Linked DNA regions of Homo sapiens. The protein of the gene in region 1 purifies or fractionates together with the protein of each later gene. This does not show direct contact. Each region holds a gene or a part of one and is shown on either strand. Other genes may lie near its edges. The genes, in order: ZNF556 and NEK7.

What was found.
Region 2: the proteins of ZNF556 (region 1) and NEK7 purify together in Homo sapiens (affinity purification with mass spectrometry; one large-scale study listed by BioGRID and IntAct). This does not show direct contact.

The regions. Positions count from the first base shown.
Region 1 is NC_000019.10:2,873,641-2,877,464, reverse strand, and holds part of ZNF556 (zinc finger protein 556), read right to left. Parts: intron 2,658-3,824; exon of another isoform or gene 2,639-2,657; intron 2,532-2,638; exon of another isoform or gene 2,282-2,531; intron 1,967-2,281; exon of another isoform or gene 1,802-1,966; intron 1,463-1,801; exon of another isoform or gene 1,396-1,462; intron 1,373-1,395; coding exon 1,189-1,372; intron 193-1,188; coding exon 1-192. UniProt on the Homo sapiens protein: May be involved in transcriptional regulation.
Region 2 is NC_000001.11:198,257,985-198,261,808, reverse strand, and holds part of NEK7 (serine/threonine-protein kinase Nek7), read right to left. Parts: intron 1-3,824. UniProt on the Homo sapiens protein: Protein kinase which plays an important role in mitotic cell cycle progression. Required for microtubule nucleation activity of the centrosome, robust mitotic spindle formation and cytokinesis.

The DNA.
Region 1 (3,824 bases):
TGAGCTCTTTTGTGCCTTATCAGGGATGAGGAATGGGTGAAGAGTTTTCCACACTGACTGCATTCGTACCGTCTTACACTAGTACAACAATTCTTGCGCAGATGACGATTACAATTTCGAGTCTTTCTGAAGGTTCTTCCACGTTTATTACCTTTACTGCTTTTACATGGTCTCTCCACCCTTGGATTTCTGCTAAAAATGGGTAGCACATTATTAATGGTTTATGCCTTAATAATTTCTTTTTTTTTTTCCTTGAGATGGAGTTTTGCTCTTGTTCCCCAGGCTGGAGTGCAGTGGCATGATCTTGGCTCACTGCAACCTCTGCCTCCCAGGTTCAAACAATTCTGTCTCAGCCTCCTGAGCAGCTGGGATTACAGTCACATGGCACCACGCCCAGCTAATTTTTGTATTTTTGGTAGAGACAGGGTTTCACCATATTGGTCAGGCTGGTCACAAACTCCTCACCACAGGTGACCCACCTACCTTGGCCTCTCAAAGTGCTGGGATTACAGGCATAAGCCACTGCACCGGCCAATTATTTCTTAATATATATTAATGAATATTAGGATAACATTTTTGCCATTTTCTATACAAGGGTAAGTTTCCTGTACTGTTGAAATTATTTCAAACTAGAATAAACGAAATACTCTGGTAGATAGTTCAACCACAGTCCATTACAAAAACAATAGTAATATGTGGGGCTCTCTGATAATTGTTTCTAACAGAATTATCATTTTTTTTTTTTGAGATAGAGTCTCACTCTGTTGCCCAGCCCAGGCTGGAGTGCAGTGGCACGATCTTGGCTTGCTGCAACCTCCGCCTCCTGGGTTCAAGCAATTCTCCTGTCTCAGCCTCCTGAGCAGCTAGGATTACAGCCACATGCCACCACGCCTATTTTTGTATTTTTAGTAGAGACAGGGTTTCACCATGTCGGTCAGGCTGGTCACAAACTCCTCACCCCAGGTGATCCGCCTCCCTCGGCCTCCCAAAGTGCTGGGATTACAGGTGTGAGCCACCGCGCCCATTTTTGTATTTTTAGTAGAGACAAGGTTTCACCATATGGGTCAGGCTGGTCACAAACTCCTCACCCCAGGTGATCCGCCTCCCTTGGCCTCCCGAAGTGCTGGGATTACAGGCATGAGCCACCGTGCCTGGCGATACTGCCTTTTTCTTCTAAGTACAACTCACCTCAAATGTCTCTCCTTGGTGTTGTGCTTGTCTTTAACGCTATGTTCTTCCCAATTTTTTCCTAAAAGGGAGGCCCATATATTCTTTCTTGTGAACTTTTCTATTTTCTGTTTGAGGGATAATTTTTCTCCAGAAGTATCCTGCTGAGAAATAGACCCACTGGCTTTAAGCTGAGCCTCATTATCTGAAACAAAAAAGTGAACCAATATGATGAGGAAGGCATCTGCAAAGAAAGAAGTAATTCAGGTGTTTAATTGTTTCATGACTTCATTATGTGATTTTATTTTATTTATCTATTTATTTATTTATTTTTGAGACGGAGTCTCACTCTGTCGCCCAGGCTGGAGTGCAGCGGCGCGATCTCGGCTCACTGCAAACTCTGCCTCCCGGGTTCAAGCGATTCTCCTGTCTCAGCCTCCCAAGTAGCTGGGATTACAGGTGCGTGCCACCATGCCCAGCTAATTTTTTTTATTTTTAGTAGAGACGGGGTTTCACCATATTGGCCAGGCTGGTCTTGATCTCCTGACCTTGTGATTCGCCTGCCTTGGCCTCCCAAAGTGCTGGGATTACAGGTGTGAGCCACTGTGCCCGGCCTGACTTCATTATGAAGAAGTACAAGAGCTCTCCTTCTGCCATCTTGGAGCCTGTGGAGGCCTGCAGGGAACACGACTCCCAAAAGAAAATGTGTCTGGAAGGTGGTGGTCCAAGGCCATTTTGGCTGCCTATAAGCAGGGTCTCCAGAACCAAAGGGAGCACACAGTTCTTCTTAAAATTGAAGGTGTTTGGCCGGGCGCAGTGGCTCACGCCTGTAATCCTGGCACTTTGGGAGGCCGAGGCGGGCGGATCACGAGGTCAGGGGATGGAGACCATCCTGGCTAACATGGTGAAACCCTGTCTCTACTAAAAATACAAAAAATTAGCCGGGCGTGGTGGCGGGCGCCTGTAGTCCCAGCTACTCGGGAGGCTGAGGCAGGAGAATGGCGTGAACCTGAGACACAGAGCTTGCAGTGAGCCGAGATCGTGCCACTGCACTCCAGCCTGGGCGACAGAGCAGGATTCTGTCTCAAAATAATAATAATAGTAATAATTGAAGGTGTTTATGTTCAAGATGAAACTGAATTCTATTTGGGTAAGAGACATGCTTATGTATACAAAGCAAACAACAACACAGTAACTCCTGGTGGCAAACCAAACCAAACCAGAATCATCTGAGGGAAGGGCATTCAGGCCCACAGAAACAGTGGCATGATTCATGCCAAATTCTGAAGCAATCTTCCTGCTAAGACCACTGGACACAGAGTCCCTGTGATGCTGTCCCTCTCAAGGATTTCAACTAATGAGAAGCAAAAAAAAAAAAAAAAAAGTACAAGCAGTCAAAATGGTAGACAATTTTAAATACACAGAAAAATCATCACAAGGTTTCAAACAATTAACCTCTCTGTGCCGCCAGTATATACCTGCGCTGGTAACACAAAAGGACCCTAAGTCTTTTCTTTTTCTTTCTTTCTTTCTTTCTTTTTTTTTTTTTTTTTTGAGACAGAGTCTTACTCTGTCACCCAGGCTGGAGTGCAGTGATACAATCTCGACTCACTGCAGCCACTGCCTCCCGAGTTCAAGGGATTCTGCTGCCTCAGCCTCCCAAGTAGCTGGGACTAAAGGTGCCCTCCGCCACACCTGGCTAATTTTTTGTATTTTTAGTAGAGACAGGGTTTCACTATGTTAGCCAGGATGGTATCAAACTCCTGACCTCGTGATCCGCCCGCCTCGGCCTCCCAAAGTGCTGGTATTACAGGCATGAGCCACCGCGCCTGGCTGATCCTAAGTCTTTTCAACAAGGCAGAAAGAAAAGTACAGATTGATAGGTAGATTTTTATTATCACAGAGAAGCTACTGAATTTTAGGTCCAGGACATCAATGATTATAACTGTCTTATTAACCAATGTATTCCCCTTCTGCATTCTAAATCTTAGAATAGGCTTAATGAGCAAGAAATATTTATTTATTTATTTATTTATTTTTTGAGACGGAGTCTCACTCTATGGCCCAGGCTAGAGTGCAGTGGCATGATCTTGGCTCACTGCAACCTCTGCCTCCCGGGTTCAAGCAATTCTCCTGCCTCAGCCTCCCGAGTAGCTGGGATTACAGGCACGCACCACCATGCCCAGCTAATTTTTTGTATTTTAGTAGAGATGGCATTTCACCGTGTTGCCCAGGCTGGTCTCGAACTCCTGAGCTCAGGCAATCCACCCGCCTTGGCCTCCCAAAGTGCTGAGATGACAGGCGTGAGCCACCGTGCCTGGCTCTTTTTTCTTTTTTATTTGAGACAGGGTCTCAAGTTGTCACCCTGGCTGGAGTACAGTGGTGTGATCATGGGTCACTGTAGCCTTGAACTCCTGGTCTCAAGCGATTCTCCTGCCTCAGCCTCTCAAGTAGCTAGGACTACAGGAGCATGCTACCACACCGGGCTAATTTTTGATTTTTTTTTTGTAGAGACAAGGTCTCACTATGTTGCCCAGGCTGGTTGTCAACTCCTAGCCTCAAGTGATCCTCCTGCCTTAGCCTCCTAAAGCACTGGGAATACAGGCATGAACCACTGCAACCAGACAAAACATTTATTATCTAATAACTAAGTGCAG
Region 2 (3,824 bases), on another chromosome or scaffold:
AAATATTAACCTACTGTTAAAAACATAAAAATAAAAAATACAATCAAAAAGATATTTCATGTGTCTCTGAAAACACAAATCTCTCAAGGTTCTAAGTGTGTGGAAAATAACATTTAAAAAAGCAATATCTTAGAGACTGCAAAAAAAATCTAAGTCAGTACTGCAAGCTGATTAAAACCCTAGTTACATAACAAATAAAAAAATTAATGACATTTTTAGTAATCAGCTTGATCAAGTCTTCCTGATTCAGCCAGCTAACATTCCAGGAAAAGAAGGTACAATGTCAAAGGAGTGGCAGAATCCAAGTCTTTTTAATTAAAGAAGTAGTTATTAGACACTACCAGAGAGGGCTGGCCTCTTTACACATGATGCTTTAAACTTCATTGCAATCTTATAAGACAGGTAGTATTGGCCACAATAACAAGATGAGGATTGAGGCTCAAAAAGATTAAATAATATGCTTATGATCATAAAACTAGTAAAGGACAGAATCAGGACTTGAAGCCAGGTTGTTCTAGCTCCATAGTCAGTGTTTTCTCAATGAGCCAGGCTGTCACAAAGTCTAATGCATACACAACTAGCTAATAAGTATTAAAATATATGTGTGTACAAAGTGTAGTATTAGAAACCTAAGGAAGAAATTCCTTCCATGTAGGGTGGCGGGTACCATTAGAGGTGAACCTTGAAAGAATTATAGGATTCTGCCAGTCAGAAACAAAAGATATCTACTGCATAAAAGTAAATATGGAATAAGGGTGTAAAATTACAGCTTATAAGAGGCAACTTTTTCTAGATATCATTCTTAATATCCAAAGATACACAAAGTTCTAATTTGTCTTAATTTAAAAAACCATATGAAGATATTAGATAAGATTATAAAGCAAAAATAAAATCCATAAACTCACTGCCTTAAAGAATTTTAGCTTTGGCTCAGTCCCTTCTATTTCTTGTACAAACGCATGTGCTTTTTGCATAGTGAAAATAGCAGTATATAAAATGATATATATGCTTTTTCACTAACATTATTTTGGTTCTACTACTTCTAATGAAAACTTCAAGTATCAAATTTACGTTCTGCAACTTTTAATGTAAAATATTGAGCACTGCAGTTTAAGATTTGAAAAAATATAAAGCCTTACCTTACTTGATGGTTTACAAAAAGAGACAGACTAGATTACATCAAAGTTTCTCCCACTTAATCAAATAACAGAAGAAGAAATATGTATGCCGGTACATATATTAAAGAGAGTTAACTTCTCTTTTTTCCATTAGCAGTAATTCTAACCATGTCAGCCACAGTAAACTCATGTTAACTACCATGATTTCAGAATGGAACAGAATGCAACACGATGAAACAACAGCAAGGAAAGGAAAAGGGGTTAAAAAAAAAAAAGGAAAGGACTATGAGTGGCAAATCACTATCACAAAGTTCACATAAACTATCTAGTAAGATATGTTTTAGCTAACATTAAGCTGTTGTATACATTAAGCTTTGACAAAATGAGCTAGATATAAATGGACACCAATAGCAGGGGTTAAAAAAATTACCAGTATTAAAGAACAAACCATATGACACTATTTATGGAAGGAAGGAAAAACCTTGCAGAAATTTTCTCCAAGAGCATCATAGTTTTAACTCTACACACAAATTATTAATATGAATAACCTGATCCTGAGTACAGACAAGCTTAAACTGTTAATGCCCACCCTTTCTACATATAAAAATCCATGCTGAATGCCATCTTACTATCAGATTTTATTACAGATACAAATAAGAAAACCATCTTGCAGTCCTTTAAGATGCACAGTGTCAGATGCAGAATGCAGACTGCAACACAGAAAATTAACACGCAACTTGTAAGTGCTACTTGTTCAAAGTGATGTAAGAACCTTAATGGGGGTGAGCATGGCTGGCTGGAAGGGCTCTCAATAACTGATTTATATAAGCAGGAATGCGTAATGCCCTTCAGGAAAATATATATGTGTGTGTGTGTGTGAGTGTGTGTGTAAAATCGAAAGTTCTTGAACTGAAGGAATAAGCTTTACATTTAGCAATTTCACATAGAAATGCCATTCATTCCCCCAAAGGGATTATTATATCAACATGTTAAACAATAAAACAAACACTAATGGAAACAGAAAAATTTGAACTTGATATTAGTTATAGGTATGAAACACACACACACAGACTACTTGCACTTTAAATCAAAATGGCATGAGAAATAACTGATTCTTGACACATCATAAATGCTGATGCCATTCTCAGGAAATGCTATTTACAAGGAATTTGAGATAAATCAAAGATATACTGGAAAGCACAAAATTGTAAGTATATCAGATCTTGATGTAATTCCTGGTATTTTTGTTTGTTTGTTTTAGGAGGCAGAGAAAGAATAATGCCCATATAGTACCAGTAATTAAAATGAAGAAAATCACAAACTTGGAGACATATATGTATTTAATCTCTCAGTAATCAATGTCTCTATGATGTGGAACAACATTTTTAAAAACAAAAGAGGGTGAGTGAGATAAGAATGAATAATAGATGTATAAGAGTTTTAGGAAACCATAACAAGATACAACATATCAAGATAGAAACATGCTACATAGAAAATCTTTAATTCAAGTTATAAAAATTAATTTAGAATTACAAATTGACTTTTATTTTTAACTGAATTTTCAATAATATCAAAAGTCACTCCTCAAACACAGGGAGAAATAAGCATTGATGGCACATCTAAAGCAAAACTAAATTCTGAGCAAAATACATTTACAAATACATTTAACTGGAAATTCAGAAGTATCTTATCTTTCTTTTTCTCTCAGCCAACAAGTCAAGACAAAAATAAATAATAATGAATATTTAGATTACATCATTCCCAAACACAGATTCAAAGCTGTCCGATGATTTCATGAGCAAGAAAAAGCAGTATGTCTTGGGTGAAAATATGGACTTTGTAAGAATATCTTGCATATAATATGTACAAACAAGTCTTTAGGAGGCATCATTTTCATTCAGCTCCACCAAAGTTTCTTCAGGTTTTTAAACTCATTTTATACTTGGTAAGAGCAAGGGATGAGCTGTGGTTAGGCAAGTAATGACTGATAAATTCTTGGTATTCTCTGAATCATTTTAAAGGTTTTCTTTTGTCATCTTAAAATTTTGCCAAAATTACTCATAGCTAATGAAACTGAAAAGGTTAACACTAGATTTCTTTAAAAGGAAATGAAATCCTTCTAGTAACTTAACAGAAATATCCCCTTAAAAAGGCATATGTCAAATTGTTAGAAGAAAGACCATTTAAAATGCAGAAAACAAAGTACTTAAAAATATATACTAAGCAAGTTTTTGTTGTTGTTGTTTTTCTTTTTTGAGAGAGTCTTGCTTTGTCTCCAGGCTGGAGTGCAGTGGCGTGATCTTGGCTCACTGTAACCTCCACCTCCCGGGTTCAAGCGATTCTCCTGCCTCAGCCTCCCAGGTAGCTGGGACTACAGGCGTGTGCCACCACACCCAGCTAATTTTTGTATTTTTAGTAGAGACAGGGTTTCACCATGTTGGCCAGGATGGTCTTGATCTCTTGACTTCGTCATCTGCCCGCCTCAGCCTCCCAAAATGCTGGGATTACAGGCGTTGAGTCACCGTGCCCGGCTCTACAGCTGGAACCTTCCTGTCACTACCCTTCAGATGACTGACTCCTTATCCTCCACCTACGCTTAAATTTCACATCCTCGGAGAGGCCTTTGCTGCACACTCTATCTAAAATGCTCTCCTCCTCTAGTTTGTCTCTAATACCACAGCATGGTCATTTCCTTTTTGGCTATAA